Linked DNA regions of Homo sapiens: regions 2 and 3 are each linked to region 1. The links come from fine-mapping of genetic effects on gene expression. A gene starts in region 1. Each other region holds a variant in brackets. All regions are shown on one strand. Distances are from middle to middle. Region 1 holds the start of ARHGAP18 (Rho GTPase activating protein 18). Region 2 holds the start of LOC102723409 (a long non-coding RNA gene). Region 3 overlaps ARHGAP18 (Rho GTPase activating protein 18).

Evidence for each region. PIP is the estimated chance that this variant, and not a neighbour inherited with it, causes the effect. A credible set is the group of variants that fine-mapping cannot tell apart.
Region 2: its variant is the best candidate, but not a certain one, in a credible set for the expression of ARHGAP18 in whole blood (INTERVAL, PIP 0.74).
Region 3: its variant is the best candidate, but not a certain one, in a credible set for the expression of ARHGAP18 in whole blood (INTERVAL, PIP 0.74).

The regions. Positions count from the first base shown.
Region 1 is chr6:129,705,198-129,716,181 of GRCh38, forward strand. ARHGAP18 (Rho GTPase activating protein 18) reads right to left here and starts at 4,980. Exons shown (of 15, transcript NM_033515.3): 1 at 4,827-4,980. The coding sequence starts at 4,939. RefSeq lists a silencer at 5,254-5,333.
Region 2 is chr6:129,559,551-129,570,534 of GRCh38, forward strand. It overlaps LOC102723409 (a long non-coding RNA gene), which reads right to left and starts at 10,016. Exons shown (of 8, transcript XR_001743860.2): 1 at 1-10,016. The variant T/C (reference allele first, on the strand shown) is at 6,604.
Region 3 is chr6:129,682,303-129,693,286 of GRCh38, forward strand. All of the region lies in intron 1 of ARHGAP18 (Rho GTPase activating protein 18), which reads right to left. Among named protein-coding and RNA genes, the nearest start is that of ARHGAP18, 22 kb to the right of the region's middle. RefSeq lists an enhancer at 1,742-2,036. The variant A/G (reference allele first, on the strand shown) is at 5,827.

The DNA of each region.
Region 1 (10,984 bases):
ATGTGGAATGACTGAATGATTATGCTTGCAGAACCAAGGAATGGGTGAGACATGAACAAGTCAAGAACTGAGATAAGCTTATAAAGATGATAGTCCTCTTCCATTTGGCATGCTGGGCAGTAGTAGTTCTTAAAGCAGAGGAAGGAAGCATGGAGACAGGAGTGAGTCCAGCTGCCAAAAGAGGATCCACCCACATTCTATCTTGCCATAGAGTCAATATTTGCAGACCTCAATGCCCATCAATACCCCCCAAGAAAGGCCTGGTATAGGCAATTGTTACCAGTTCAAATCATAAATGGTGCTATGGATCAGGATGATATTTCCAAGGTCTTTCAAACTTCAAAGGCCTAAACTTTTACATTATGGTTCATTCTCAAATATGTCATTTTTTAAGCATATGGATAATGCCCATGTTTCTTAACACATGACAAAATAATATTCAGAAAAACGCTTCTGAAACAAGGGAGAATATTCTATATCCTGCAAAACTCAATCCTTTCTTTCCTTTTCTTTACCTAGTATTAAGGAAAGTAGCAGCTAGCTACAAACCAGACACTCTTCTATGGGCTTGACAGAGGTCATCCCACTCAGTTGTCTTAATCAGGTGAGTAATATTATGAAGTTCAATTTATGGGTAGAGAGATAACTCCTCCAAGGTCACACTGCTAATGAATGAGAGAGCTGGGATATGACCCCAGACAGGTTGGCCCCAGAACCCAGGGTTTCTGGGTTTATGTCACCCCTGTGTAGTGCCTCTTGTTTCTGCCTACCCAATACCAATGGCAAGTTGGGTCAACAAGACCTTACATGATGAATGCCATACATTTATTCAGAGAAGGCATAAAAATATCTCACTCATCAGTCCATTCAGTTAGCTAAGGAATTAAAAGGCCCAATAAAAAAGGTTACTTGACATTCATATTAAAATATTAGCAAAAAATATGCAAAGCAAACAACCATTTCTCTTAAAATGGGAAGGTAAGAGAGAACAGTAAGAATAGACAAAACACAATATTCTTCGAAAAAATTCTTTTCAAAACTAAATATTAAGAAGCCTGCTTGAAAAACAAGTAAACAAAGTCTTATAAATATAGCTACTCATAAAAAGTGGTTTCCTTTGGAAACATTCAACTGTGTACAAGTCGGCCATGACAACTAATGTTAACATATTTCTTCAAATCCTCATGTTTTGAGGAGGAAACATACAAAAGAAAAACAGGATTCTATAAAGGGAGAGGCTCTAACCAGGAGTGGGAGGAATTCCTTAATCTGACATTCAATGACTGTTTTCTGATAAAGAGGGATAATGGAATGGAGAAAATTTAGCTAACAAATTACTTCCAAAAATATTAATTCCCTACTATCTCAGCTTTTCAAAAGACCAAATGGTAATAAAAAAGGACATGGAGCCGGGTGCAGTGGCTCATGCCTGTAATCTCGGCACTTTGGGAGGATGAGGTGGGCAGATCATCTGAGGTCAGGAGTTCGAGACCAGCCTGGTCAACATGGTGAAACCCCGTCTCTACTAAAAATACAAAAATTAGCCAGGGGTGGTGGCACTCGCCTGTAATCCCAGCTGCTTGGGAGGCTGAAGCAGGAGAATCACTTGAGCCTGGAGACGGAGGTTGCAGTGAGCCCAGATCGTGCCACGGCATTCCAGCCTGGGTGACAGAGTAAGACTCTGTCTCAAAAAAAAAAAAAAAAAAAAAAGACTTGGTATGGCTAGGCTAAAAATCAAACACTTTCAGGCTGGGCGCAGTGGCTCATGCCTGTAATCCCAGCACTTTGGGGGGCCAAGGTGGGCAGATCACCTGAAGTCGGGAGTTCGAGACCAGCCTGACCAACATGGAGAAACCCCGACTCCACTAAAAAAAAAAAATACAAAATTAGCCAGGCGTGGTGGTGCATGCCTGTGGTCCCAGCTACTATAGAGGCTGAGGCAGGAGAATAGCTTGAACCTGGGAGGCAGAGGTTGTGGTGAGCCAAGAGTGCGCCATTGTGCTCCAGCCTGAGCAACAAGAACAAAACTCCATCTCGAAAAAAAAAAGGAAACAATTTTCAATAAATACGCTAAGTCATACACATATGTATAAATGGCATTATAAAGACATGAATTCATCTCATGAACTAAATATTGGATTAAATATTTCAAAGAACATATTACTTACAGACAAAATCTTGTGATAAGAAAAGTTATACTTCCGTGCTATCTTCTATAATTTTTAAATGGGTAGGAGGAAATGCAGAATCTAATTTAGCTTTTATTTTTTATTTATTTATTTATTTTTTGAGACAGGGTCTCACTCCCTCACCCAGGCTGGAGTGCAGTGGCGTGATCTCAGCTCACTGCAATCTCTGCTCCACCAGCCTCAAGTGATCCTCACACTTCAGCCTCCTGAGTAGCTGGGACCACGGGCATGCACTACCATTTCTAGTTTGTTTGTGGTTTCTTGTTTTTTTTTTTTTTTTTGTATTTTTGGTAGAGCTGTGGGGGCGGGGGTCTTTTTTTTGCCCAGGCTGGTCTCTAACTCCTGAGCTCAAGCAATCCACCCACCTCAGCTTCCCAAAGTGCTGAGATGACAGGTGTGAGCCATCACACCCAGCCTAATGTAGCCTTTTTAAGAGTTTTGTTTTGTTTTTACTTTTTGGAGAACTTCTTTAAATAGGCATCAACCATCAACCTTGCACCTTGGAGCAGCTTCCCAGGGCTTAAAACAACACCTGACCAACCCAGCCAAAGCCAAAGCCAAAGTCCAGTTCACCGCCCCGAAACCACTATCACCATTCTTAGGTGGTCACCGAGGACCCCATCCCACCTTCAAATCCTCCTTCCTTCTATCCATCCCCTCCCCCATAGCAATTACAGTATCTCAATCCTTTCAGGCTAAACAGGGTATCTCCCAAAACAACAACAAGTTTATCTGATTCGTTAGCCCTTAAGGGTAAAAGCCATTGAAAACTAGCCCTACTCCCTCCTTCCTCCCTGCCCTCAAACCAGGCTCCCATCTTCTCCGGTCAATATCAGGAACGATCCCTAGAACTAATTCAGTGGTGGGAAGTTGGGTCTGGTATGGGCAGGCTACGTGACAGCCAGCAAAGGAGCTCACCTGGAGCTGTGGCCCCACACAGGGCACTTGCCGTGTGGGCAGCTGCCCACCCTGCCACCTTAGTGCCTCTTGGTTCTGCTTCAGCCTAGGCAGAGAATGATCTGATCCTCTCTTATTCTCTCAACCCACTCAAGTATGGGCCACCCACACTGCAAACACAGAATAATGAGTCTCCAGAACTGGAGATGCAGCCCCAGACAAAGGCCTAGAACTCCAGACCTTCCAAAAACTTAACTAATCCCTGGGGTTTGAGTCCTACGTGAAAATGAGAGGTTAGGACTCAGTCCTTAAGGTCCTTTCCATTCTCACAATCAAGATCCAAGATTCAGCTCAGGTCCTCAGGCCATTCAGCCTAAAGTCGGAGAATGTCCTGAGCTTGTATAATTTTGGCAATTTTGACTGACATGTGGAATCCAAGTTATGGCTGGGTATGGGGTTGGTGTTGCAGGCTGCTTTACTGCTTAATGATTACTAATACATTACAGAAAAATGGATGAAAACACTTCAAGATCTCTTGATTTAATGATTTAACATTAAGTCATTTAAAATGATGGAAAATGAAATGGTAACACAGCTAAGGCACAAGCACCAAATCTTTTTTATCTTTGGAAATGAATTCATTCAATGAAATACATACTGTGGATGCTATGTGAGAAACAGTTCCCGTCAGCTGGGAGTCTAACACTGAGTATTACAGCCATTCCTTTGATTTTTCTCCCTCCCTCATATTTGGAGATTTTAAAACAAATGAAAGGCAGCATTATTTCAGCTTAAGGCACAGGCATAAGTCACATAAGAACAAAGAAGGTTTTATTATCACATTAAGCATTGAGGAGGAAATGTGCTTACCGATAACTAATTTAGTGTTCTAGGCTATTAGGTTAGTATTTGCTTCTTGCAATCTTCTAGGCCAATATTTACTATTTATATCTTGATGGAGGTAAAAATGTTCAGCTAGTGAGAAGGTCATTAAGGAGAGAAAGAAAAAAAAAAGCCCTTGGAAAATGGAACAAAGTACACAGATAGGGAGAAAGGTACCCTTTGCGCCTCAGTGGTCTATAGAACATTTGCCCTCTCTGCCTATAAAGTGATTTAACATTAACCACATTTCACTCCAGCAGCAGAGTGCTATCTCCTGACAAAAACTCCTTTTTGAAAGCCTGGGGGAAAAAAAATCCACATACACAAAAGAATGTGAAACATATTGCCACAGGCCAGTGTCTTGGGCTTTTTGCCTAAGAGGTTTGCTTTCAGCAAAGAGAGGGGGGAAAAAAAACACTCTAACAACAACAGCTTGTACAGTACAGTGAACAGCCTCCCTGCTTTTTGGCAGACTTTCCCAGCGAACAGTTCCAGTGGCAGTGCCTTGAGCCCATTCAAGAATTCCATTTCATAGGAAAGGAAGTGTTTCAGATAGACCTATTTGATCTTTCAGCATGTGCAAATGCACCTGCTAAATAGCTAGTCTGACAGCCCATATAGCCCTCTCCCCAGTTCCTTCTTCTCTGTCTTCACCAGTAATCATATGGGTTATTTCAGACTTGGACTAGGTGAGATGAAAAGTACATAAAAATCACGCCAAACGTTGCTACTGCTGCTGCACGAGCTCAGGCTCGACGTGCAGATGGAATTCCCTTCTCCCCACGCCAACTTCCCTGTCACTTTCTTCCTGGAGCAGGTAAGAGGGTTTTGTTTTGTTTTCAGCTTCCGAAGGCTTACCTCGAGGTGGCTTCCTCCCCTGCCTTTGCATGGCTGTTCCCGACGGTCTGGTCCTTGCCGCTGGGGTGGTAGGCTGTTAGTACCACTCCCTGGGAACTGGAGAGCCAGCTCATGGTGAGAGAAGGGACATACTTTCTGCGATCCTGACACAGAGAAGGGGAAAGAAGTTCCTGTCTCGCCTGGCAACTCGCTCATTAGCATTGGCCAGCTCCTCCCCGCAGGCTGGCGATTCACACGGGGAGGGGCGGGGTCTGTCCAGGGAAGGGCTTCCTGCCTCTCCAATTAGAAGCTGCAACTCACAGCATGGTTTCAACTCTGGACAATTGCACTCTGGGCGGCTTTGGTTAAAGGAGGCGAAGGGTGGAAGCGACGGGTTGCACCCACCCCCAAGTTAGTCTGATCAGATTAAACTGCCAGAACGTATATTCAACTCATCACTGTAACTACAAGCCGTCTTACTTAGGAAACCATGAGTTGCTGCCAAGGCTTTTTTTTTTCCCTCCCCAATTCCTCTATCTTATAATTTCTGCTACTTAATGTAACATGAGTAAAGGCATTTCTTAACCCCTTCATGTTCAGCGTTAAAATTAGCCATAGTAAAAAACAACGAACCCGCGGCAAAACTCTGCAATCCAGACGACGAGAAAGGCTTGATCCTTGTGTCCGGTTAAAAATGCCCTCATAAAAATTGTGTGTCCTGGAATGTCGTCGTCTTTCACATAAAGCCAATCTCAAATATACGTCTTGTTTTAGCAAAATATTTTTCAGCACCAAAAAGGGATAGACCTACCAATGCTCTGTTAAGTGTTATTGCTGAGAACAAGAGAAGTCCCTGCCATTTGTTGAGCACCTACTATATGCCAAGCTCTCATGGACGGGGGTTTCACATGTATTATCTCATTCCATTCAATTCTCTCTCTCTCACACACACACACACACCGTACAAGATAGGTATCACTATCATCTGTGTTATACATAACACAAGGAAAGTAAGGCTGAGGGACGAGTTAAGTAACTTCACTAAGATAACACAGTTGCTAGTGCCAGAAGCTGGATTTGAACAGAATTCTAGGCTACATTCCTTTTATTTTTCACCAGTATGCTCTTCTTTGTTTTGCAGATTAAGAAACAAGATCAAAATTATCATAAACACAAAAGACAGCTCTGTTCTTTCTCCCCATCTCCCCTCCAAAAAAAAAAATCACTTTTTTGGTTTGTTTTTGAATCAGGGTCTCACTCTGTCACCCAGGCTGGAGTACAGTGGTGATTGTAACTCACTGCAGCCTCAACCTCCCAGGCTCAAGAAATCCTCCAGCCTCAGCCTCCCCAATAGCTAAGACCACAGGCATGCACTACCACGCCCAGCTAATTTTTTTATGCTTTGTGGAGAGGGAGGGTCTCACTGTGTTGCCCAGGCTGGTCTTGAACTCCTGGGCTCAAGCAATCCTCTTGGCTCAAGCTCCCAAAGTATTGAGATTACAGGCATGAGCCACCACGCCTGGCTTCTACTCTGACATACCCAGTAGTCTGAAGGTTTTTTTAGATTTTTATGATTCATTCAACTCTCTAGAATTCCTCTTGAACAAGTTTCCAATTCCATCATTACATAAACTTATTGCTTATACCTTATCATTATTTAAAACAGTCATGAAAAATAATTTCTTCCTCCTTACATACTCTAGAAGTATCTGAAATTTATTTTTGAACCCTCTTTCTTATAATTTACAAAAGTCTTCCTTAAAAGGAATTTATATCTTCCTCCCTCCCCCCTGCACAACTGCTCAACCTTCCCATTTCCACTTCCATAGGACTTTACTTGCTGTCTCCTTTTTATCCCCATGACCTCAACCACCTCTGGATCCTATAATGCAGTCTTAGCTCCAATATTACAACAGCCCTTTTAGCTCATCTCCCTGTCACCTCCTTTAAATTGCTTTGACATTATGATCACACCCTGGCACTCATGATCCCTCTCCTCGCTTAAAAACCTTCATTGGCTCTCTATTGCTAACAGAGCCAGTTCCAGGCTTTTGAGCAGATCACTGGGCATTCCTGCTACCTTATACATACAAGTCTTTCCATCTGCTAGACACAATCTTTTCAGGTCCTACTATGATTCTTTTCTCTTCATCTGACAGCTAACTTAAATTTTGTACCTACTGAGCCTTCAGTAAACACTGAATGGAGGAAAACCTGAATGAATTGAAAGTATCCTTTAAAACTCTACTAAATTTTTTTTTTTTTTTGAGACAGAGTTTCGCTCTTGTTGCCCAGGCTGGAGTGCAATGGCATGATCTCGGCTCACCACAATCTCCACCTCCCAGGTTCAAGCGATTCTCCTGCCTCAGTCTCCCGAGTAGCTGGGATTACAGGCATGTGTCACGACGCTGGCTAATTTTGTATTTTTAGTAGAGACTGGGTTTCTCCATGTTGGTCAGGCTGGTCTTGAACTCCCGAACTCAGGTGATCCGCCCACCTCGGCCTCCCAAAGTGCTGGGATTACAGGCATGAGCCACCGCGCCCGGCCAACTCTACTAAATCTTTATATTAAAATTGGTAATATTAGATAAGCGGTTCCCATGCACATACCAGTGCTAACCTATGAGGAAATGTTCATCAGTTCAGGCAAAACAAAAACTATAAAGAGAGGGAGGCAAAGATTAAAGTAAATTAGAATATATGTGTTTTGTCTTTTCAGTGTCCTTACATGGAAAAAATGTTAATAACCAGCTCATCCACCCCTCCTTTTTTATGTAGCTACTCTGAAATGCAAACATATGGGAATCACTATCTTATACAATTATTGATGGTAATCACTACATTATCTTTTGGAAATTCTTTTCTGTTTCCCTCCCACCTTTTTCTCCCCCCTTACTTCCCTCTACCTCCCTTTTTATTATCTTCCTTTTTTTTCTAGTTTTCCTTCTTCCTTTGCTATGTCTTTAGCCTGTCAATGTCATCCATGCCCATTGGCAGCCACGGGCACTGCATCTCTCATGTGACAGTTTGCGATGAAGATTTTGTCCAGTTATAGCCAAAACAATTATTTAGTTATATTTTTGCCTAATTATGGTCTTTTCACTTGTTTAATAACAAATCACAATGTACAGGTTGAAATGTAATTGTTTTACAATGTCAAAATAATATTTGGGTTTGCAATATCCACCGTTTTTAATTTCTGTGAGGCAGAAAACCAAATGTGATACAAATTGATTTACATAGCTTAGTACATAAAATTTGAATCCTTCTAATTTAGCTCTCAAATACCTGAAAATCCTCTGAGCTTTTTCTCCTTTCCTCCCACCAAGCCCTGTTGCTACTGGTCGAAGGGTATTACCTATCACAGGCAGAGAGCTGGTAGGACTGTGGCCTGGTGTTCATAGCCTCAGATACATGCTCAAGTAGATTAAAAACAGTTTTCAGAATTTTCCCATGTCATCAAAGAAGCAAACCTAACTACCAGTGTGGTCTCTTAAAAAGCTGTTCTTTGGGAGGCCAAGGTAGGTGGATCACCTGAGGTCAGGAGCTCAGGACCAGCCTGGCCAACATGGTGAAACCCCGTCTCTACTAAAAAATACAAAAATTAGCCGGGTGGCGTGGTGGTGGGCACCTGTAATCCCAGCTACTCAGGAGGCTGAGACAGGAGAATTGCTTGAACCCAGGAGGCGGAGGTTGCAGTGAGCCGAGATCATACCACTGCACTCCAGCCTGGGAGACAGAGCGAGACTCCGTCTCAAAAAAAAAAAAAAAAAAGAAAAAGAAAAAAAGAAAAACAACGACAAAAACAAAAACAAAAAAAAAAACCTGTTCTTATTTCACACTGTAAACTGTACTAAGGTTTAGCTCATGTCCATCCCTTATACCATTATCGCTCTTTTGCAGAGACAAATATTATGAAAAAAAACAAAACACTTTTTTACTCCTTTCCGCAACCATTTTAAACACACACTGAGAACCTCATGACCTTGAAGATGTTAATATTCCCAGCTATTGAGTGCGTGCCAAACACTTTCCTGTTATGAAACATCTTAAAAAGTAATTAACAACATCAAGACAGTTTAAACATTCATTTCATTCATTCTGTTTAAATGAGGTGTACTAGATGACACAGGAAAGGAAAAGGAAGCGGTAATTTATGTACCCAAATAGGTTGTTAAAAATAGGGTGAAGATGGTACTGCAGTCTCTGACAATTTGACACCCATGTTCAAAAACAATGAAAAAATTTTTCTTCAGTTCAGTGCTAGTGGTAGCAAAGAGTTTATTAGCTGGTTTTTATATGTTGATTTAGGAGCCTATTTAGTATTAGAAGGAATTGTATTAGAAGAGTGCCATGCAATGGAATCAGCATATAATTTATCAAATTTTTCCTGAATTGGTCTAGTTCTCTTAAAAAAAAAAAAAGAATTAAAGGAGAATATGTACACACAATCTCTATATGATGATGAAAATCTACATAGGGACAAAAGCCATGTGAAAATGACCTTCCAAATGGTAAAATTAAACCCAATTTTCAATATTATAACAAGAACTTGAATAAATTAATCAACTGTGAAGTTAAAGTTTTACATAGGTGATAAAGGCTAGACATATGAAGCAGGATTGACTAATGAAGAGGAAGAGTTCTTAACATCCCTTACCTCATGTTTTATCAGGACCTCGTAGGAATAGTTCTTGTCAGCTTACAAAGTTAGCTACCTCTGTGCTAGGGTACTATGACTGAAAATTATTCCATATACAGAATCTCAAACTATTTCCTTGGGAATTACACTCATTGTTATTAATTCTGTCTCTGGAACAACAAGAAATAACCCTTTTCCCTTTCTCTGGACAGCTCTAAAAATGTCTACGTTATTCTCAAAGTTATTTTCTTAACTGCTCCTCCTGCGAGAAAATACTAGCCATGCTTGGGATAATTTGTAACTGCTATTGCCAGAGGCTAATTTAGGCTTTTCGGCAATCATTTAGAAAAGATGTTTCTTACAAATAGTTTATTACCAATAAATAACAATAGCTAATATTGAGTCCTTACTCTTCGCTAGACATGGTATACATGGTCTATCATTTAATCATCACAATCACCACCAGGGATAGAAATTGGAATTACGCTCACTTTAGAGATGAGGAATATGAGGTCATCCAGTTAGTAGGTGGCAGAACCAGGACATGTAAACCTGGGTTTATGTGACCTTGGAGCCTGAGCTCTTAAGCATTATAAAGGTTACAGCAGTCCTAGAATTGACATCATTTTATTTCTGAAAAGAATCATATGAATAACAAAGTTAAATAATCTACAGCAAACCTAAGGTCCTTAATCAAATGGAATATTGATATAAATACAATGCTATGGAGATTTACACTCAATTCTTTTCTGGTACTTTGAAACTTGTTTTTTTATGTCAAATTATTGGGGTAGTGTGGCATAATATATACACTAGTCTAAAAGGTCATCATCATTGTGCCATCATATCTAAAATTGTTTCCACTGATAGAAGTGAAAAAAAGTACTCTGATCACTATGATTATGAATTTTTTTTTCTTAAAAAAGCAGATTCGATGTGCGGAACCCAAAGCTTATAGAATTTGTTAGCTATGGAGCCTTGGATGAGGCCTTATGCAAGAGCCAGACTCTGAAGATTCAATCTCATTTAACTTCATGAGAAATCTGCCCTTCATATCAAAACTAGCCTAAGCTGGAAATTATCCAAGAAAAAGTGCCATGACCCTAAATTTTCTTTTGGTTTTCTCTTCATTGACAACTAGAATGGAGATACATGTTGCAAACACTTGCAACTGGAATGATGAAGTATATTCTGGAGGCTAATACGTACTGGAAAAGTAGAATTTTGTTTATGAATATAAGGTTCAATTTTAAAAGTCTACAATTGTATCAATATTAGATTTGTCAAATACAAAAATCCTTGTCCTGCAGTGGATTACAAATGATGCTTATCCCCTTGTTATGTAAAAGCAGCCACTGTGAGTGGGGAAGAATGGTGAAGCTGCAGATCTAAGGAAAGGGATGAGTTGATTCATGGCTTGGAGAAAAAGAAAAATGGAAGGAAGCCATGTTTCTTTTTTTTTTTTTTTTTTTTTTTTTGAGACGGAGTCTCTCGCTCTGTCGCCCAGGCTGGAGTGCAGTGGTGCAGTCTCAGCTCA
Region 2 (10,984 bases), 150 kb before region 1:
AAAATAGATGAAAAAATGCTCATTATCACTGGCCATCAGCGAAATGCAAATCAAAACCACAATGAGATACCATCTCACACCAGTTAGAATGGCGATCATTAAAAAGTCAGGAAACAACAGGTGCTGGAGAGGATGTGGAGAAATAGGAACACTTTTACACTGTTGGCGGGACTGTAAACTAGTTCAACCATTGTGGAAGTCAGTGTGGCCATTCCTCAGGGATCTAGAACTAGAAATACCATTTGACCCAGCCATCCCATTACTGGGTATATACCCAAAGGATTATAAATCATGCTGCTATAAAGACACATGCACACATATGTTTATTGCGGCACTATTCACAATAGCAAAGACTTGGAACCAACCCAAATGTCCAACAATGATAGACTGGATTAAGTAAATGTGGCACATATACACCATGGAATACTATGCAGCCATAAAAAATGAAGAGTTCATGTCCTTTGTAGGGACATGGATGAAACTGGAAACCATCATTCTCAGCAAACTATCGCAAGGACAAAAAACCATACACCGCATGTTCTCACTCACTGGTGGGAATTGAACAATGAGAACACATGGACACAGGAAGGGGAACATCACACTCTGGGGACTGTTGTGGGGTCGGGGGATGGGGGAGGGATAGCATTAGGAGATATACCTAATGCTAAATGACGAGTTAATGGGTGCAGCACAACAACATGGCACATGTATACATATGTAACAAACCTGCACATTGTGCACATGTACCCTAAAACTTAAAGTATAATAATAATAAAATTAAATTAAAAAAAAAACAAAACAAAAAAACAGAAACAAAAAAATAAATAAAACAAACTTGAATGGAAAAAAAGGTTTATGTGTATATATTTTGACATAAATAGACCATTTTTAAATATCATTTAACTTCTTAGGGAAAAAAAACTGATATGAAATCTCAAGTTAAAAATGGCTAAAAGAAAATTCTATTTGCCTAGTAATTCCTATGCATAAATCAACATGTTCAAGGAGAGGATGAGGATCAACATTATTTGTAACTATACCAACTTTCCAAGGACAAATAGTTCATAATTTCTAAGGAAGCCTTCTATAGTAATCATCTCAGGCTACCATAACAGAATGCCAAATGGATGATTTAAACAACAGAAATTGATCCTCACAGTTGTGGAGACTAGGAAGCATGAGATAAAGGTGCTGGATAATTCAGTTCCTGGTGAGGACTCTTTCCCTGGCTTGCAGACAGCTGCCTTCTTACTTTACCTTTCCTCCTTGATGCATACACATTAAGAAGAAGGGAGATCTCTCTTTCTTCCCATCATAAGGCCACTAATTCATGATGAAATCTTGCATATTAAAAAGAAAAGCCACTAGTCCTAAGAGACCCACCCTTATAACCTCACCTAACCCTAATTATCTCCCAAAGCCCTCATTTCCAAATTAACAAATGAATATTGGGGAAATAAAAACAGTTCATAACACCTTCTTTATTGAATAATAATCTCTCAGCTCAGAAGAACTCTGGAACACCAAGGCAAAAAAAAAAGGCAGCATTATGTTAAAATAAAAACATTTAAAGTCAAATTGGAAGAAATATTTATCATTGTAATAACAATGCTGCTGAGTTTGGTTGACTTATACATTATTTACTGCGGGCCAGGTGCTCTTCTATAACATTTCTATTCTCTATTATACATACTCATTCAATGTGCAAATATGATAAATCTAAGGGTCCTAAATATACAGTTTATATATTTGTTATAGAGTATATATAACTAGTACTGTAACAGAGAAACAAATAATATAAAAAGATATCTCCCCTGGTTTTATGAATTCACTAACAAACATATGAGACATTATTAGCCTCATTAGTTATCCATGAAATGCAAATTAAAACAGCAAAATGTCATTTCTTCACCCATGAAATTAATGAATATTAAAGAAAATGATGGTGAGAAGACATTGAGATTATCACTCAACTGTCATTGATGGAAGTATAAATTAGTATGACTTTCCTAAAAAGCAATTTGACAATATATGCAACAAGAGCTTTACAGATTTTTCTCCTCATCAAGCCAGTAATCATTTTCTGGCATACTTCTCAGAAATTAAAAAATGAATGATTGTAACAGCTGGGTAATAAATCCTTATATAAGTCAGATTGTTTCAAAAAATACAAAGAAGGACCTAATAATTTTGAGACAGAGATCTATGTTTTTTTTTTTTGGCATATAATGAACTTTTTAAAAATTCAAAAAACTGAGTATCTCTGAGTATCACTAAAATAATTGCAATTTACATTTGATTGTGAAAAAGTTTCTTGGTGTCTACACACATATAATTGAGAAAGAGGACTAAATTGATGCTGAATTTATTAGGAATAACATCTATCCAGTGATAACTAAATTTTTTAAAAACTGAAACCCTTTCTCAGAACCTAATTTTCAATAAAACTTAAATGTTTTATTAGCTTTATCAAAATATGTGATATATTTTTGTTTCATCAACAATAACTTCAACATATATACTTATTTTGCTGTAGAGAAACACAATTGCTTTGTATCATTGAATACATTACTTTAGGATAAACTTCTAAGGAAGAAAGTCTAATAAAAATAGGAGTTCAAGGGGAAAAAACGTAGAAGTTCTTGCTATTAATGATGAGCTTCCATGCATTTTTAAAAACAGACAACAGGGTATCAAATCACTATGGTATTGATGTTATTCTTGAAATAATTTAAAGTATTAGAATGTCCTTTGCAATTATTTAAACTTAGGATGAAAAATGTTAGATTTTAATGAAAAAAATATTCAAGATAATACATCCTTGTAATAATCACTTTAGGGGACATGTAAGTGGAAAACTTTGAAGAACATTATTATAGTGTACTTGGTGTATTGTTTGCCATCCAATAATTAGGATTTGGAATCAAAGCCTTCTGTAACACTTGTCCTAAGTCTTGTTTTACAGGGCGTCATATTTTTCAATGCATCTAGTATATGTTCCTTGGGTTTTGCTATATAAATTATAGTAGGCAGAGCAAAACTCTTATTATATGTGGAGTGAGAATCAGGGTAGCAGCTCCCAACCAAGGATATTTTCAAAAAAGCTGCTAATATGGAACAAGCTTTAGTGTCTCAGAGTTATCAGCCCTTCTTTAACACCAGCTCCCAAACACGCTTAATTTAAAATCATTTGATTTAAATGTGGAAAAGTTTCTTCAAGGTAAAAATCATAAAAAGAAAATTTAAATTACTGGTCTTCCTTAAGGACTGGCAAAATTCTTGGAGAAGGAGGCTTTTTCACCTTTAACCCAATTTTCTTCAGAAGTTACTCTGAGTGATCTTTTAGATACTTTAGCACAGTCAGTTTTCTTCAAAAGTTAATCATTGTAATATTTTAGATAAGAGGAACCAAGAAGCTCTTGAATTAACTAAAAATAGAAATACAGATAGTTCAGATATTAGAAATTAGATGTGAAAACTATTTTATGATCAAGTTTCCCTCTGCAAAATATCCAACTGGGGAAAAAAAGCCTTGAGAAACCTTATTCCTCTGCCTTTTCCCCCAACAATCCCAACTAAATTCATAGTTCCCAATTCCTATTTACATGTTGGCTTATGGCAATAGGCATCTGTTCCCATCACTCCAAAATACTCTAGACCTGCTCTCTAGGTCAGCCCTGAACTTATAGACTTCAGCTCCAGTGGTTTCTACTTAACTTTCATCTGGTTCACTTCTCTCAATTATTTGACATAGTTGATCATTTCCTTTTTGTTAAACCTGCTGTCAACCCTGACATCTGTGATTTTTACTCTTCTGACACTACTACTATGGTTTGAACTGTTCCTTCTAAGGTATCTCTCCCTTTATGCATCCTGTAAGTGGAGAAAGGCATTCCTCAAAGTTGTTCTTAGCCCTCTCTTGGCCCTTCGCTCTCAATGGACCATTTGTTTTGCTTCTATGGCTTTAAATATCACCACCCTGCAAAGTATTTTCTAAATATACATTTTCAAAGAAATCTTACCTAAAAGATGTCTCAGTTCTAACTGTTCAGCTTCTTCAACACTGTAAGCTCAACATATCCTCATCTTCTCTCCTTTCACACCCATAATACTTACCCCTCTCTTGCCCCAATCCCTTCATTTCAAATCAGTACTTCTCCCAGTTCTGGGAGTCAGTGAAAAGCACCATCATCTTCTAAACGTCTTTAAACTCCGCTCCCTCACTTCTCTCCATCCAATGGAATCATCAAATCCTTTTGACCTCATTCTGCAACATCTGTCTGCCCCGTTCTCACTTTTCACTGCCACAACCCTAATTCTGAGCCTCATCATTTCTGACCTGATCTAGTCTTCAATATTCTAACTGCACTTCCAGCTTAAGTACCACTATCTCCATTAACAATTACCCAACTAACAGTGTCCTTTCTCTATCTTCCCATTACATTTTACCCATACAATCAGTTGTACCCATATTCTGCTTCCCTCAAATCAAAGCCCATTTGCTAGGGATACATTCCCCATTAATCCTATTCACAAATCTAAATCCAATCTCCTTGTGGAAATGCACATACAATTGATTTTTACATCATCGCAACCTAACTTGTGGTATAGCACATAGCAGGCACTAAAATGCTAAGAAAAACAAATGGATAGCCATTTTTCTTTCAGAAAATTTAGAGTATTCCTTATCAAAATAACATTGTCTAATGAACTCGGTATACTTTGATGTATTATCTAGTTACACCTAACAGTTTCTTAAGAATAAAGAATCTTAATTCCTTTTTTTTTTGTATTTTTAATTTTTTTTGAGACTAAGTTTCACTCTTGTCGCCCAGACTGGAGTGCAATGGTGCAGTCTCGGCTCACTGCAACTTCCGCCTCCCAGGTTCAAGCAATTCTCCTGCCTCAGCCTCCCAAGTAGCTGGGATTACAGGTGCACACCACTATGCCCAGCTAATTTTTGTATTTTTAGTAGAGATGGGGTTTCACCATATTGGCCAGGTTGGTCTTGAACTCCTGACCTCCAGCGATCTACCCACCTCAGCCTTCCAAAGTGCTGAGATTACAGGCATGAGCCACCATGCCCGGCTCCTTCCCTCTTCTTAATATCATAATTAGCATGAGGATGAATGAAGCACGTCCTAGAACATGTTTCAGGATTCTTCGACAAGTGGAGATGCACAATCTCTTATTTAATTCTTCATGTTCTCAGTAAAACTCCTTTTGTTTTTTCCAAATATTTGACAAAAAAGTAACAAATATAAGAAGTCATGTTTACTTGCCAACATAATTTTAGTCTCCCTGATTCTGTTACTAAGTATGGATCTCCAAAATAATGCCTTAAAGACATAAACAAGATAGGGCACACAGCTCCCCACATCTCTTGCCTAAGACATTACATTCCTTAAAAAATAAATGAACTTGGTCCTTACCTGTTCTTACACATAAAATCATGCCTGCCAAAATCAACAATTATGCCCCCGCAAACTATAACCAAATATACTCTTAGGCCCAAATTTTAATATAATTTTATACATGCTGGATCTTCACTCCCTACATAAAAACTATAATTTAAGCTGCATTAAAAAAGTCTAACAAAACGTATCTCTAGACAATTTTTCCAAAATATAATCCTCAATAAGACTCTAAATAAATTTTAATTCTTTAAACATCTAGTATTTGTTTAGTCAACAATACAAACTGGGTGATACAAGCAACCAAAGCTAAGACACCCCAAGATTTTCCCCATTGAAATGAGAGTTGTGAAGGCACAAGTAATGATTAAATCACTCCCTTTTTGTGATTGTAACAAAGCTACACTCAGGTGAAAGAAAAATGTAACTGATTGACTGCTCAGAATTGGGCCACTGTCTGTGACTCTCCTTACGAACTTCCCTCCAGGGGAAATTCCTTGTTCACTTTGGCCCTTGCTGGAGGGGAAGGTGACTTGCAGCAGAGATTACACGAAAGCTGTTATTTTGTAAAGGTTACAGGAGATGCAACAAGAGGCAGCGCTGAGCTACCCAGGTGCAGCGAGAGGAGAACATCAAAAGAGGAGTAAAGATAGCACAGAGTGGAGCTGCTTTCTCTGTAGCTTATCTGAGCTCCTTCAGTTGAGAAATCAAGACTTGCAATCTCAAGATAAAAAGCTTGCTTGTGACAAAGCCAGTGTTTCTTGACTAAGTTGGAAGTACCATAGAAGCAGTTTTTCTTGCAACCAATCTATTTCTCTATACAGTATGCAGCTACATGTGAAAATAACTCATGAAACTCTTCCAAGAAACCTTAAGGACTTGAAGAAATGCTTGTATGGAAGGAGGGGGTTCTAATGTTTCATCTGGAATCCTTTCTACCAGAGCCAACCGACTGCATACACAACTTTAGGACACAAGTGAAAAAGAGAAGCTGGATGCCAAGTCCAGATTCCAAGATATGAGGCCAAGTGAAATGGGAGGGAAATTATTATTGCCACTTAATATGTATTAAATACAACATTTGAGAGATCACAGACCCAGAAACACCAGGGCAAGGAATTGGAACTTCTGCCAGCAGGAGCAGCTAACGCCAACTGAAAGAGCCCAGGATTGTCCCAAGAGTGAACAA[T/C]GTATCAAGACAGAAAATGAACTGGATAAGAGTTTTACTTCCTAGACCTTCTGGTCTGAAATGCAGGGAGAGAACTCTGTCTTTATGCCAGTTTATTTAACTTAAATGAAACAAATAATATTCAAAGTTGAGCTGAGCTCACAGAAGTAGAAAAAAGATGTTCTCACAAAATTATTTCTATGCCCTACAGTGGCACCGATACTCCAAGGAAGAGTTACTAGCACTGATTTCCAGGTGAGATAGTGTGGCACTGGAACCAGAACTCCAAATGAGATCAAGAGGGACATTCCATAAATATCCAGTAAATGACTCCTAACTTGGGGAAAGGAATGTTCATGGGGGATGCTATCAGAATTACCCTTCAAGGGAGGGCTGGTTATTTCTAAATATAGGTGCTGCCCACTCTTCCACCATTCTCTCATCTGTTTATTAGGATCTATTACTGATAGGTCTGTTACATCTTTTCTCTGTATTGATGAGAAAAATAGAATATGGCAGAATTTTATATATATATGTATATATATATATATATATATATTTTTTTAGACGGAGTCTCACTCTGTTGCCAGGCTAGACTGCACTGGTGCCATCTCAGCTCACTGCAACCTCCAACTCCCTGGTTCAAGCAATTCTCCTGCCTCAGCCCCCTGAGTGGCTGGGATTACAGGCACACACCACCACGCTCAGCTACTTTTTGTATTTTTAGTAGAGACGGGGTTTCACCATGTTGGCCAGGATGGTCTTGATCTCCTGACCTTGTGATCCGCCCACGTTGGCCTCCCAAAGTGCTGGGATTAAAGGCGTGAGCCACTGCGCCGGGCCTAGAATAATATGTTTTAAAATTATTAAGGTACAGCTCTGATAATATTGAGCATAATAACAAGTAATAAAAATACATTTATCAAATCCCATCAGGCAAGTATGCTGCTGAGCCCTTTGTATGGTTGTTTAATTCTAGTAAGCTGCTAAGAATATTCCTATTATTATCTTTATCCAAAGTATAAAATGAGGCCCAGGTAAGTAACTTGTCCAAGATCACATTCGTTAATCCAGGTAGTCTGGCTCCAGTATCCATATCATCTCTTCTCAAAATATTACTTAAATTTGAAAAAAAAAATGCTTAAAATTAAAAAAACTCTTTTGCCCAGCATCAAAGGCCCTATGTAAAGCACTTCCAACTCTTTCTTCTGCTAGTGCCTTATTTGCTCCCTTGTGTGTAGGAGAGCTCCTTATAAGTGCTGTCCATACTCACAGTCCCCAATTCTCATTCTCTTAACCCCGCTATAAGCATCCTTATCACTTTACCAAAACTGGTAAGTCTACTAAGGTCTACTAAGACCTCCACATAGGTAAAGCCAGTGGTTAACTTCTGCCCTTTAACTCATTTGAACTATAAGTAGTATCTGATACTACAATCACGCCCCCTGCAGTTGGCTTCTGGGACACCACTGTCTCTCAGTTATCTATAAGGTTACTTATTTTCAACGTCTTTGCTAGTTCTTTCTTTTCTAACCACTAATGTTGGGTAGCTCCAGGACCGAGTTCTCGGTAACTTTATTTATTATACCCAGACTCACTCCCTTGGTGATCTCATGCAAGGTCATGGTTTAAAAGTCCATATGCATGCTGATGAATCCAGCCCAGACTTCTCTCCTTAATGCCTGCTCATGTAACTGCCTACAAAATATTGCCACTTGGATATCTAACAGGCACTTCAAATCCCATACATCCATGACTGAACTCCTGAATCCCTGCTAACAGTACCTGATTTACCTCCACTTCCCTATTTCTCTTGTTGGAAAATCCATCCTTGCAATGGCTCAAGTCAAAAGTCTTATGGTTATCCTTGATTAAAAATCCTCTCGTATCAGAAAAAATCCTACAGGCTCTACCTTCAAAAATATATCTAGAATCTGGGTACTTATCACTCCACAGTTACTGCCCTCACCAACAGTGCCCTGTTTCACTCTCAGAAATGTCCTGATTTGAACAATAATCGCCCTAACACAAAGCCCTCCATGATCTCACTCCCCATGATTGTGTTACTTCTCTGCCCTGCCCTGTTACTATCACCGGCCCTGAGTCCACTCCAGCCACACAACCTTTGGTAACAGGCACATATCTGCTTTGCACCTTTGTTCTAGTTGTTTTCTTTGCATAGAATATTCTTCCAGGTATCTACATGGCAAGTTCCTTGAAGACTTGCTTCCAGTCTTTGCTTAGTTGTTAATTATTCAACGAGACTTCTTGTGGAATGCTGCAATGACCCTATCCCTCCACATCTTGTCCTATTTGCTCTGCTCATCTTTTTTGTCTCCATTGTACTTACCACCTTTCAATATGCTATAGAATTTTATTTGCTCATTAATATTTCATTATCAGTCTCCCTCCACTAGAATGTAAGGGCTTTTTGTTACTTTGTTCACTGATGCATCTCAAGGGTAGAACATGTCTGGCATATATGTAGGTGCCCAATAAATATTTGTTGAATGAACACATATACACTAAAAAGTCACAGTTCACAGTGGCTGGCAAGGTGGCCAAATAGGAACAGCTCCTGTCTGCAGCTCCCAGCAAGATCGGCATAGAAGGCAGGTGATTTCTGCATTTTCAACTGAGGTACCCTACTCATCTCATTGGGACTGGTTAGACAGTGGTACAGCCCATGGAGGCTGAGCTGAAGCAGGGTGAGGCGTTGCCTCACCCAGGAAGTGTAAGGGGTCAGGGAACTCCCTCCCCTAGCCAAGGTAAGCTGTGAGGGACTGTGCCGTGAGGAACAGTGCATTCCGGCCCAGATACTATGCTTTTCCCAGGGTCTCCACAACCCACAGACCAGGAGATTCCCTCAGGTGCCTACACCACCAGGGACCTGGGTTTCAAGCACAAAACCGGGCGGCTATTTGGGCAGACACCGAGCTAGCTGCAGTTTTTTTTTTTTCCGTACCCCAGTGATGCCTGGAACGCCAGTAAGACAGAACCGTTCATTCACCTGGAAAGGGGGCTGAAGCCAGGGAGCCAAGTGTTCTAGCTCAGTGGATTTCACCCCCACAAAGCCCAGCAAGCTAAGATTCAGTGGCTTGAAATTCTTGCTGCCAGAACAGCAGTCTGAAGTCGACCTGGGAGGCTCGAGCTTGGTGGGAGGAGGGGAGTCTGCCATTTCTGAGGCTTGAGTAGGCTGTTTTCCCCTTACAGTGTATACAAAGCTGCTGGGAAGTTCTAACTGGGTGAAGCCCACCACAGCTCGGCAAAGCCACCGTAGCCAGCCTACCTCTCTAGATTCCTCCTCTCTGGGCTGGGCATCTCTGACAGAAAGGCAGTAGCCCTATAAAACTCCCACCCCCATGGGACAGAGCACCTGGGGGAAGGGGCAGCTGTGGGCGCAGCTTCAGCAGACTTAAACATTCCTGCCTGCCAGCTCTGGAGAGAGCAGTGGATCTCCCAGCACAGCACTCTAGCTCTGCTAAGGGACAGACTGCCTCCTCAAGTGGGTCCCTGACTCCTGTGCCTCTTGACTGGGAGACACCTCCCAGCAGGGGTTGACAGACACCTCATACAAGAGAGCTCTGGCTGGCATCTGGTGGGTGCCCCTCTGGGATGAAGCTTCCAGAAGAAGGAACAGGCAGCAATCTCTGCTGTTCTGTAGCCTCTTCTGGTGACACCCAGGCAAACAGGGTCTGGAATGGACCTCCAGAAAACAGCAGCAGACCTGCAGCAGAGGGGCCTGACTGCTGGAAGGAAAACTAACAAACAGAAAGGAACAGCTTCATCAACATCAACAAAAAGGACGTTCACACAAAAACCCCATCCGAAGGCCACCAACATCAAAGACAAAAGGTAGATAAATCCACAAGGATGAGAAAAAAACAGCACAAAAGGGCTGAAAATTCCAAAAACCAGAACACCTCTTTTCCTCCAAAGGATCACAACTCCTCACAAACAAGGGAACAAAACTGGATGGAGAATGAGTTTGATGAATTGACAGAAGTAGGCTTCAGAAGGTGGGTAATCACAAACTCCTCCAATCTAAAGGAGCATGTCTTAACCCCACGCAAGGAAGCGAGAACCTTGAAAAAAAGTTAGAGGAATTGCTAACTAGAATAACGAACTTAAAGAAGAACATAAATGACCTGACGGAGCTGAAAAACACAGCACAAGAACTTCATGAAGCATACACAAGTATCAATAGCAGAATCGATCAAGTGGAAGAAAGGATATCAGAGATTGAAGATCAACTTAATGAAATAAAGAGTGAAGACAAGATTAGAGAAAAAAAGGATGAAAAGGAACAAACAAAGCCTCTAAGAAATATGGGACTATGTGAAAAGACCAAAAAGAAAACCTACATTTGACTGGTATACCTGAAAGGGACAGGGAGAATGGA
Region 3 (10,984 bases), 23 kb before region 1:
GCCTTTCTCTTTGCCAAGCCAGAATCCTGACATGACCACTTCTGAAGCCCCCTTGCCTCATTTCCCCGTGTTCTGAGGCTAGCTTCCCTCTCTGGCAGACCCCCAGAACAATACATGAGGTCTTACAGGCAAGTAGTCCTACAGATCCAAGAGGAATCAAAGCATAGCTGTCACCCACACAGGATGCAAATGGCATCTCCTCATGGACAACTGGGTGCCATTATCTGTAGATGGTTACTGAAACACAGACTTCTGACATTAGTGTTAGTCGAATTCTAAAGTTTGATCTGGTAAAAATAAACTAAAACCCTAGAGACACAAAGCAACATTCTTATGTCCCAAAGCATCATCACATAATTAGCAAACATTTATTGACTGTCCACAGCCTGCCTGGCATTAACTAGATGTTGAGATTCAGGAATAAAGAAAACAACATGTTTAATGCCTTGATGAGTTTATAGTCTAAGATGGATAGAGTAACTGGACACACAGCTGAGAATAAACAAGGGACTGAACAATAAAACACAATAAGAATTTTTTTGAGAAAACTGCACACATAATGCATTTTAATCAAGGTAAACCATATAATACATTTTAATCAAAAGACATAGCTTGATAATATTACTATATTCTATTGATTGTTCTATTTCTTTCTTTCTCGTTCTGTTTCTCCTTTCTGTTTTTACCACCATGGTTATTCACAGACTTATATACTTCAGGAAAAAAAAAGTGAGAAATGTGTTTTGTTTTTTCTTTTTTTTTTTTTGTTTTTTTTTTTGTTTTTTTTGAGACGGAGTCTCGCTGTGTCACCCAGGCTGGACTGCAGTGGCGTGATCTCGGCTCACTGCAAGCTCCACCTCCCAGGTTCACACCATTCTCCTGCCTCAGCCTCCCGAGTAGCTGGGACTACAGGCACTCGCCACCACGCCCGGCTAACTTTTTGTATTTTTAGTAGAGACCGGGTTTCACCATGTTAGCCAGGATGGTCTCGATATCCTGACCTCGTGATCTGCCCAATTCAGCCTCCCAAAGTGCTGGGATTACAGGCGTGAGCCACCACGCCCGGCCTTGTTTTTTCTTTTAATTTGAGGTGGAAGGAACCAGCACAGGGTTGTTGGTTTTTTTATCTGCCAAGTACGGGCTTTTTTTCCCGTAGAAATGAAAAACTATATCTACTTGCATTAGCTTCATTTCATTAAAACATTGATCACACGTTAATAATTTGTGATCAAATTCATTTACGTATAAACAACCAATATCAGATCCTTTCATATTTTGATTAGCAGTATGAATTACAGAGCGGAATGATAACAAGTCAGAGAAGAAAAAAGCCCTGATGAGTCAAAAATGTAATGGAAAATAGAGGTTGGAGATGGCAAAATCTTTCCTTATTTCACAATTTTCTCTGGGGCCAGCCCAATTTACCTTTCACAACAATGCAATAACAAAGCAGCAAGGTGTATCTCTGCCTTGCACAAAGTGGATATGGTGAATGAGAACACCATCAAGAATCATAAAATGATGTGGGCATACCTGGAAAGTAACGTGGAGGTGTAACCACGGCGGGGGGGAGTTCTGCTAAGAAAGGAAAGGTGAGAAAACACTTGGGAGAAAATGGCTTTTGAAAATGTGAATTGAAAAGAGAAGGAGCTCAAAGCCAAGAAACTGACACTGACAGCGCGAGATGATTGAAGTGCAGATTAGGATTGAGTTGGGGCGTTGAAAAATAAAGTACAGATCTGAAAAATCTTGGAGAGAAAAAAATAACAAAGCTTAGTAAGAGCTCCTTGAGCAGGCCTGGGGAGAGAGATGTCAGTGATGACTCAGATGTCAGGAGTGGCAAGGCAGGCCAGCTGCAGGACTGCCAGTGACAGGAGGAAGTAGGAGAGGAAATGATGCATGCGATAGCTAAGAAACACTATAAATGGCTACATATCTGTGGTTTCTCCAGCAAAAATGCATGTGCAAAACGTTCTGTATTCAGTACCCTAGTTAAAATATAACTGTGGGGAGAGCAACAGATTAACTACACAAACTGTTGCTTTAAGATAGCATGCCTAGGAATGTGCATGGGAAAAAAATACTGAGGCAAAATAAAATTCAATTGTGGTTAGCTCTAGAGTAGTATTATATTAATAATATAAGTGACTTTTGCCTCCTCTTTTGTGCTGCTATTTTTCTAAATTTTCTCTATTGAGAATGTTGTCTTGTAGGGCAAAGTTTTGAAAGTTCCTAAGTGAACATGTTAGAATGCTGTGTGTTAGTTTGTAAATTTCATGGAAACACATACACACCAGAACGCATCCACCAACATTAGGTGTCATGGAGCCTGCGGCACACAGAGGGTCCTCCAAAACAGCATTAATATATCCGTAGAAGTCCATGGGAATCATCGTAGTTGGCCATCTGGTGACTTTCACGTGTTTAGCATATAATCAGAAGTACACAGATTGACCATACTTTACCCAAATCATGAAAGCCAAGAAATTTGTCTAATAAATAAATTACTTAACCCGAAGCCTAATACTACCCCAAGGAATTTTTCAGTAAGATCTGTGAAATGCCCTCTAGAATCAGAGAAGATATCAGCACTAAGATATTTGAGTATTAAATACAGTGTTTCATGATCCTAGAAAAGTGGAATGGGTACTTCCAAAGTAAACTGGGCAAATCCAATATGCAAGGTCACTGAAATAGAGAAACGTCATTACTGCTTTCTCAGACTCCGGCGGTGGACACTGGACACAGCGTAGTAATTAACAGGACAGCCTCTGGAACCAGGCTGCCAGGGTTTCAAAGCAGCTCCACCACATTCCTAGCATGTCACCTTGAGCAAGTTTTCTTCACTTTTGGGCCTCGGTTTCCCCAACTATAAAATAGAGACCATAACTATACCTACTCTCATAGAATCATGAAATATAGGGCTGGGCACAGTGGCTCACATGTGTAATCCCAGTACTTTGGGAGACCGAGGTGGGCGGATCAATTGAGGTCAAGAGTTCAAGACCAGCCTGGCCAACATGGTAAAAACTCATCTCTACTAAAAATGCAAAAATTAGCCAGGCATGGTGGCAGGCACCTGTAATCCCAGCTACTTGGGAGGCTGAGCTAGGAGAATCACTTAAACCTGGGAGCCAGGGGTTGCAGTGAGCTGAGATCACACCACTGCACTCCACCCTGGGCCAACAGAGCAAGACTCCGTCTAAAAAAAAAAAATTGTGAAATATAAATGAGTCAATATTCAAATATAGGATATTATAAAGCACACAATACCAGGCAAATTGAAGGTACTGTATAAAGGTTATTGTTACATATTTTTCATTAAAAAGAGATGTCAAAAAAGCCCAGCCTTCTCAAAAATTCTATTCAGACTTAAATGCAACCATTAAATGTGCTGATCACGGTGATCACTTGATAGTTTTTTCCATATTCAAAAATACAAGGCAGCTTTTTTTTTTCCTCTCCCACTTCCTCTTATTTTCCCCTCTGATCTACACACAAAAATGAATTTAGTTAATACTTGAGTTCCCAGAAGTGAGAAGTCCAGATGGTTTTCTCCCTACTCAAGCCCTCCTCTAGGAAACGAAGAAGTCTTTTTGCAACAACCCTGCCTGTATGTTGGCAACAACTTTCAAAATCAAAAGCAAGTTGACCCCACTGTAAAAGAAAAATGCTTCTTCAGCCCTTACATTGCCGGGGGCGGGCGGAGGGGCAGAAAAATCAGAAAAGAAAAGGAAAAGTCTGTGCTAAAGGAAAATTAAATAAATTTGGGTTTTTGCAAAAGACCCTAACACCGAGCTCTCCCGTGATGCAGCACAGCTTCTCGGAACCCAACTCTTACTATTTCCTCGGATCCCCTCTCTGGATAAAGGTTCTTTTCCCAGCAGGGCCGTTCATTTGCATGGTAAGTACCAACATAGTGTAAAATATGAACTCCCACGCTCCCAAACCCTCCTACCATGGCTGCCCTGTGTTCCTCAGCCACTTTCTCCTTTGCACTGTCCCCTACAGGCTGGGCTGCTCATCTCCTAGTGAGCTTGCCTTCCCAGCCATTCCCATAAGACTCTCTGCACATTCTACAAGTGATGTTCAGGGAGCATCTGAAAGCTTACCTCACCTCCAAATCTCACCAATCAGAGGAGCCTCCAGCCTACCACTCCACCAGTAAGATATGAGGATAGAGGTTCCCTGCGCAGGTAAGCTGGCAAAGACCAGACGCTTACCCAGAGCTGCCTTGGCTCCTCACAGGGCACCGACTTCTTCAAAGTTCAGTCTCTTCCCTAGGATACTGAGAAAGCCACCCACCTGGATATTCCAGAGAAATATGGGCTGAACTTCCAGAATCCTCAGATTTGCAACTATAGAAGTGTTTAAGTGTTACAAGTTATAAGTTATATGGATTTGTCTTTCTCCAGATTGATATATTTTTCAGGAGTCAGGGGAGTCATCCCGTCATCTTTCACTGAATTCCCTCCCTAATAAAACCTTTTTTTTTTTTTTTTTTTGAGATGGAGTCTCGCTCTCGTGGCCCAGGCCGGTGTGCAATGGCGCGATCTCGGATCACTGCAACCTCCACCTCCTAGGTTCAAGCGATCCTCCTGCCTCAGCCTCCGGAGTAGTTGGGATTACAGGCACCGGCCACCACACCTGGCTAATTTTTTTTTCTTTTTTTTTTCTTTTTTTTTTTTTTTTTTGTATTTTTGTAGAGACGAGGTTTCACCATGTTGGCCAGGCTAGTCTCAAACTCCTAACCTCAGGTTATTCACACAACTCAGCCTCCGAAAGCTCTGGGATTACAGGCGTGAGTCACTGCGCCTGGCCATAAAACCATTCTTTGCAAGCACAGTTTCATCCCTTTGAGATGACAGTTGGCTACAGATGTTGAACAGGTATGCAGGGACCAGTTTCTATGCACCCCACCTTTAGGACTTGCAACTCTAGTTCACGGGTCTCAGAGAAGTTGTAAGTTACCAGTTTCCAACATTCCAAATTACTGCAAATGCCAGAAACTACAAATGTTTGGAAATGCCAAGAGTCTGAGGATCTACTGACACAGCATATAGCTGAAACCTCACCCACATAGTGTTAAGAAAGCGTTTCCTGCCTGTCTGGGGCTGACAAACCACAACAACCCTTTTCTTCTTCCTCAGGCACCAAGCAGGACTCATCAGGACACCTGGGCTCAGGCTCAAACCCTATCAAAGCAGGGCTGTACTGAGGACGCACCTTCATTCTCTTCCCAGAACAAGTGAAGGAAATAGGAGAGGATCTTTGCTCTAGGAAAGCAGGCTTCAGACAGGAAGTGGCAACAATTCATACAAGGTGCCATTCTTTCCTCTAACCCACACCTTAACCTGTGTTGACCATCTCCCTCTCTCATCACAATATCTCTAGATTCTTCCACATACTTATTGAAAACTATGTTCATGACACGACAGAGGAGGTAACTGTCTCAGATAGCATAAGAAGTTCAATAGTAACCAAACATTTTTTTTTAAGTTATTTCCAGTGGGCCTGTGTGCTTTAGCTCACTTAAATCTTCACAACACCACTGAGGCACAGAGATGTTTTGTAACTCACCCACGGTCAGTTAACCAATAAGGGTAGATCTGAGATACAAAACCATGCCATCTCGTCATCGAGAGCTCCCTCTTCCCACTACAGTGTCAATCCATCAGAACAGTTCCAGTTCAGTAGACCCAGTGATCCATGATGGAGCAATTGGGTATTCTGAAGAGTGGGCAGTTCACAAGCAGACATGGATGAAAAGAAATCCCAATTCTTCAGTCAAGATTGACCTTTAAGACTTTCCACAAAGTGGCCTCA[A/G]CCTCTCGTTCCAGTCTTTTCTTCTCCTCCCCAAGAGCCACGTCAGCATCCTTACATATCAGCTCCCTTCCAAACTTCTCTCTCTTCAGAATGTATTTACCTTTTTCCCCTAAAACCCAATCCTATCCAACTGCTCCAGCAAGATGAAACCTGAAACTTTCTCTGATCTTCTTAGTTGGATGTAAGACGTCATTCTTCTGTAAACACCTATAGCAAGGTTTAAAAATGATGTAACATTATAATAATTATAACTTCCAGTCCTGTAACACAGATATGACAGTGCTTATCATCCTTAGTAGAAAACATGGGATAGTACATAAAGCACCTGTTAACAAACTCCAAGGAGTTACCACAGCACAGTTTTTAAAAAACACGTCTTATCAGCTGGGTGCCGTGGCTCATGCCTGTAGTCCCAGCACTTTGGGAGGCCGAGGCGGGTGGATCACCTGAGGTCAGGAGTTCAAGACCAGCCTGACCAACATGGTGAAATTCTGTCTCTACTAAAAGTACAAAATTAGCCAAGCATGGTGGCACATGCCTGTAATCCCAGCTACTTGGGAGGCTTAGGCAGGAGAATCACTTGAACCCAAGAGGCAGAGGTTGCAGTGAGCCGAGATCGCACCATTGCCCTCCAGCCTGGGCAACAAGAATGAAACTCCAAGTCAAAAAAAAAAAATATGCCTTATCATTGGTAGCTACTACACTGGCTAATGAAATCCAAATATAGCTGCTACCAGTGACAATGATTCCATATTTTGGAGATTCAATAGACTGATGCTAAGAGCACTGCATCTAACTATTGTCTAATATAAAAACTTCTATTTTCTTCCTGTCTCCTTGAGAATCTCAATGTCACAGAGCCAACAAGAGGCAAATTCTAAGTAATTCTTTAGCATGCAAAACGTATGTGCTATTACTCTTCTTTGTCTGGAATTTATTAAACAAGCAGAATCAAGGGAGCAAATCTGAAATTTCTGGAGGAATAAATGGGTGCTGCCACTAATGATCATCTCTGAGGCCTTGTCAGGCATTTGGGAACAAACTTACCAGTCTCCAGCCTGAAAGACACCAAGGAGAAACCTGACAGCTGAGAAGCTCTGATTTCCCTCTCACATGAGGATAAGAGAAACCAGCATGTATTATTTTTTTGGTTGCTTGGATGGTTTTGTTTTTTGTCTTTTTTGAGACTAAGTCTCACTCTGTCACCCAAGCTAGAGTGCAGTAGCGTGATCTCGGCTCACTGCAATCTCTGCCTCCCGGGTCAAGCAACTCTCCTGCCTCCACCTCCAGAGTAGCTTGGATTATGGGCATGCACCTTCATGAACGGCTAATTTTTGTATTTTTGGTAGAGACAGGGTTTCACCATGTTGGCCAAGCTGGTCTCCAACTCCTAGCCTCAAATGATCTGCCCACCTCAGCCTCCCAAAGTGCTGAAATGGGCATGTATTGTTTTTTAACTACCCCAAGAAGGAGAAACAGGCATACATTGCTGTGAATTTGAAAACTTCACCAGAGTACTTTCCTCAAGAATACAGGAATAAGAATCCACTTAAACATTATAGGTTCGCATTAAAATGCCCTTTCAGCATAATTGCAGGAATCCTTGTGAGTGTGTAAGCAGAATACATATATATTGACACCTTTCTGTTCCTCTATTTCATCACTCAGAAAAGGCACGCATTTGCTTTTCACAGAAACCTGGAAAACAGCATTCCTGGAAAAACGATTCTTTGTGTACCTCCCACACTCCTGGCATCCAGCCTTCAAATTTCCATTCTGAATTCCAAAACTACAAAGAGGTTTGGCCATGTAAGTAAACTTGTCATCTAATTTCTAAAGAAGGCTGATTCATTTTTAAGTAATTACATCTATTTAAATTATGAGTCTTATGTTAATCTTATGTTAATAAGCAGACATATAAGCACTTTGGCCAAACAGTCCGTTTATAATGTTTTATTCATTACAAAATCAACATAAATGTTCTGCCCATGTAAACGTGTGTGTGTGTGTGTGTGTATGTGGTGTGTGTGTAATGATTTGTATGGAAACTGTAAGTAAAAATGCACCAACAATGTATTCATAATACTTATATTATCTTCACATACATGCAGTGCCTAAAGTGTAACCGTTCACAAAAATGAATAAAACCACTGCTGAACTAAATATATGTTTATCAGAGAGAAACCTACAAATGCTATGCTTAAGATAGTGACAATTAATATCTGATGTGGCTTAAACAAAAGTGGTAGATTATTACCCTCATCTCAAGTCATCAATTATTACATACAACATATAACTTCTCCAAATGCAAAATGATTCATGTTGCAAATACAATAAAACATAACAATTCAGAGACTAAAGAGAGTTGATTGTCTACATTACTCACAAGTACAATTTTAGAATCTATAGATAAGGTTCATTTTCAAACAAATAATATTTCATTTACTTTTTCCCAATATGTAATGCAAATAAAATATTAAATACTATAAATATTCACTTTGAAGATATTCAGGATTAGAGGATACATATCAATAATACAGCATATATAGATTTCTAGCATTTCATATTCCTCCCCGTGAAAAGAAAAACATTTCATACTATAATTTCACCAGCTTAATAACGTATGTCACAATCTAGAAGATTCATGTGAGACCAAATAAATTTTATATGCTTTCACAATTTCAAATATTCACAATATTTCACAACATCTGAATAAAGCAAAATTTATATGCTTTCAAAGATTTTCTTAAAATCTTTGAAATTGAAAATTCATTTCAATGCTATCATTACTTATTCAATACAAACTACCTTTGAATTGTATTTTTTAAATGCTACTCGAATGCAAAATCACCCCATAACAATTGTTTTGCATCTCAATAATTTATATATTGGGCTCAATATAAGCTGATCCTTTGAGTAATACAATGCATGTAATATTATTGCACAAAATCCTCACAATTCAACTGGTTATTCAATCATTAATTTAGTCCACTAATACAAATGAGATGGGGAAGAAGCAGGTAGTATGTTTATGGGGGAAGGAAGGAAGTGAATGACCCCCAAACAGTCACCTCCAACATAAACACACACTTTCCCTAACCTTATGCCTTGATAAAGACTACACAGACTTTGGCCCCAGTTCTCACCAGCATGGGGCCCTTAGAAGCCTAGAGAACTCCACTTACAGAAAAAGAAAACTAGTACTCGGGGGTGGGAAAATATTGAATCATGCAGAAATGCTTTAGCATCTCCATGGAAAGATCTATCTTAATCTAAAAAGAATTCTGTGCACTTTAACATTTTGCTGAGTAAGCAGTTTTTTCCTAATAAAATTCACTTCCAATCATTTCTTCAAGATGCTTAGATTATTACGATTTCAGGTAGAAATTTGAAGAGTGGCTCTCTCTAAGCGTTAAAACTTACTGGCCAAGGGTTCACAGAACAAAGTTTTGTAAGTGACATTCTGTATTCGAGCGCTATCAATTAAAATTTTTTAAAAGTATACCTAAACAAGTGCTTCTCGGGCCACCTAACCAGGAAGCATAATCTCGGAGGTGTGAACTACCCAACAATGGCAATAAACAAAAGGTCTCTGGCTGATACTACATTCACATAATTGTGGAAGTCCTCACCCACCCACTGCCCAATCTGTTTTCTGGTTCCCAAAAGGCTTCTGAGGGGCAACATCTACTCCTCCCTGCAGCCATGTGCTCCAGGAAGTGCTATGTCCATGCATCTGACATCCCCGTTCCTGCTCAGCCCACACTGGCTTCTCCAGTCCTTGGCTGTTCTTGCAAGCCACCTCCATTGCCAGGAGTGCCTCAGGCAGTATCCTCTCAGGGGCCACCTGGGCTTGGCCTGGGGCTTCCTCAGCACTGACACAGCCAGCACCTCTGCAAAGTGACAGAGGAGGAGCAACTGCCCTTTCCTTCCATAATTGTTCTCCTCTTCCAGGCCCCTGCCCATTTTTCTGTTCCTGGCCCTGAAACCCAAAGACCCCCTCTTTCTTTGAATGACAACCTCTGGGCCTACTGGCCTAAGTCAAAGGCTGGGCAGCCTGGGCATTTCTGTGGATTTTGTTTTCAGTATCTTGTGAAATGTTTTACTCTTTACAAAATGCATGCTTCCTTCCTTTCCTCTCCTCAAAGGCAGGCTGTCCAGGGAGTTAAGCTCGCCTGAGCAGACCCTTTTCTCAAGAATATTCCATCATGCCTGGGTCCCCAGTAACACAGAGTTCATTCATATTTTCCTTCCCTCTCCTTGTCCTCCCTGCACTAGGTTGGCTGACTTTGGAAGATCCCTCCATACAAACCATTTGCCTGGGTACGGAGAAATGATATCATGTCAAGGTGGTTAAACAGGCACAGAATTTTAGGGGATAAATATGAAAGCATACAGACAAAAACATACAGACATCACCCACAGAACTCTACAGGGAAAAGGCAGCATGGGATGGCATCCTAGGAAAGCAGCAACAGTTTGAGTGGACACAGAATTCTATTTTTGCCAAGATTTGTAATTTGTGGCAGCAGGACATTTATGGGAACATGTCATACAGGGACACCTTGGCCTGGAAATCATCTATTTATAAAACAGGTCTAGGTTTAGGACCAAGAATAAGGCAATCCCCGTACCTTTGGCTTCCTGAGAACTTTCAAATTACTTCGCCTAAAAATGGAGAAGCTCCTCAAAGAGCTGCAGTGAGTTGATCACTTGGCTAATATTTATAAACCAAGAAAATCCACATGCTATGAAAAAGATCCATGACTAAAAGATTATTACAAGTATATTCTCTCCCACCAGCCAGCCCTCATTCATCACCTTCTCAAATATCCAGTAATTTAATCAAAGGCACTTTTGAACCACCAAATAGGTCATTTTATTTTAGAACCTTTGGGTCTGTGGTAGGCCAAGACTTTAATGTCCTTCTGTCCCCCTGAAATATATAAATGGCTTTACTACATGAAAAAGAGCTGTTCATCGGTAACTGTGAGAACTCCAAGCTGTTTCACACCCAAAGAGAATTGTCACTTGGATTTCAGTGGAAAGTTCTCATGCAACAGCAAGGGTACTGAAACAATCTAGATTGTTGGGGAAGACCTGGAGATAAGGAGACTCACAGTCATCTTACTATACTATTTCTAAGGTTAAGAAGATC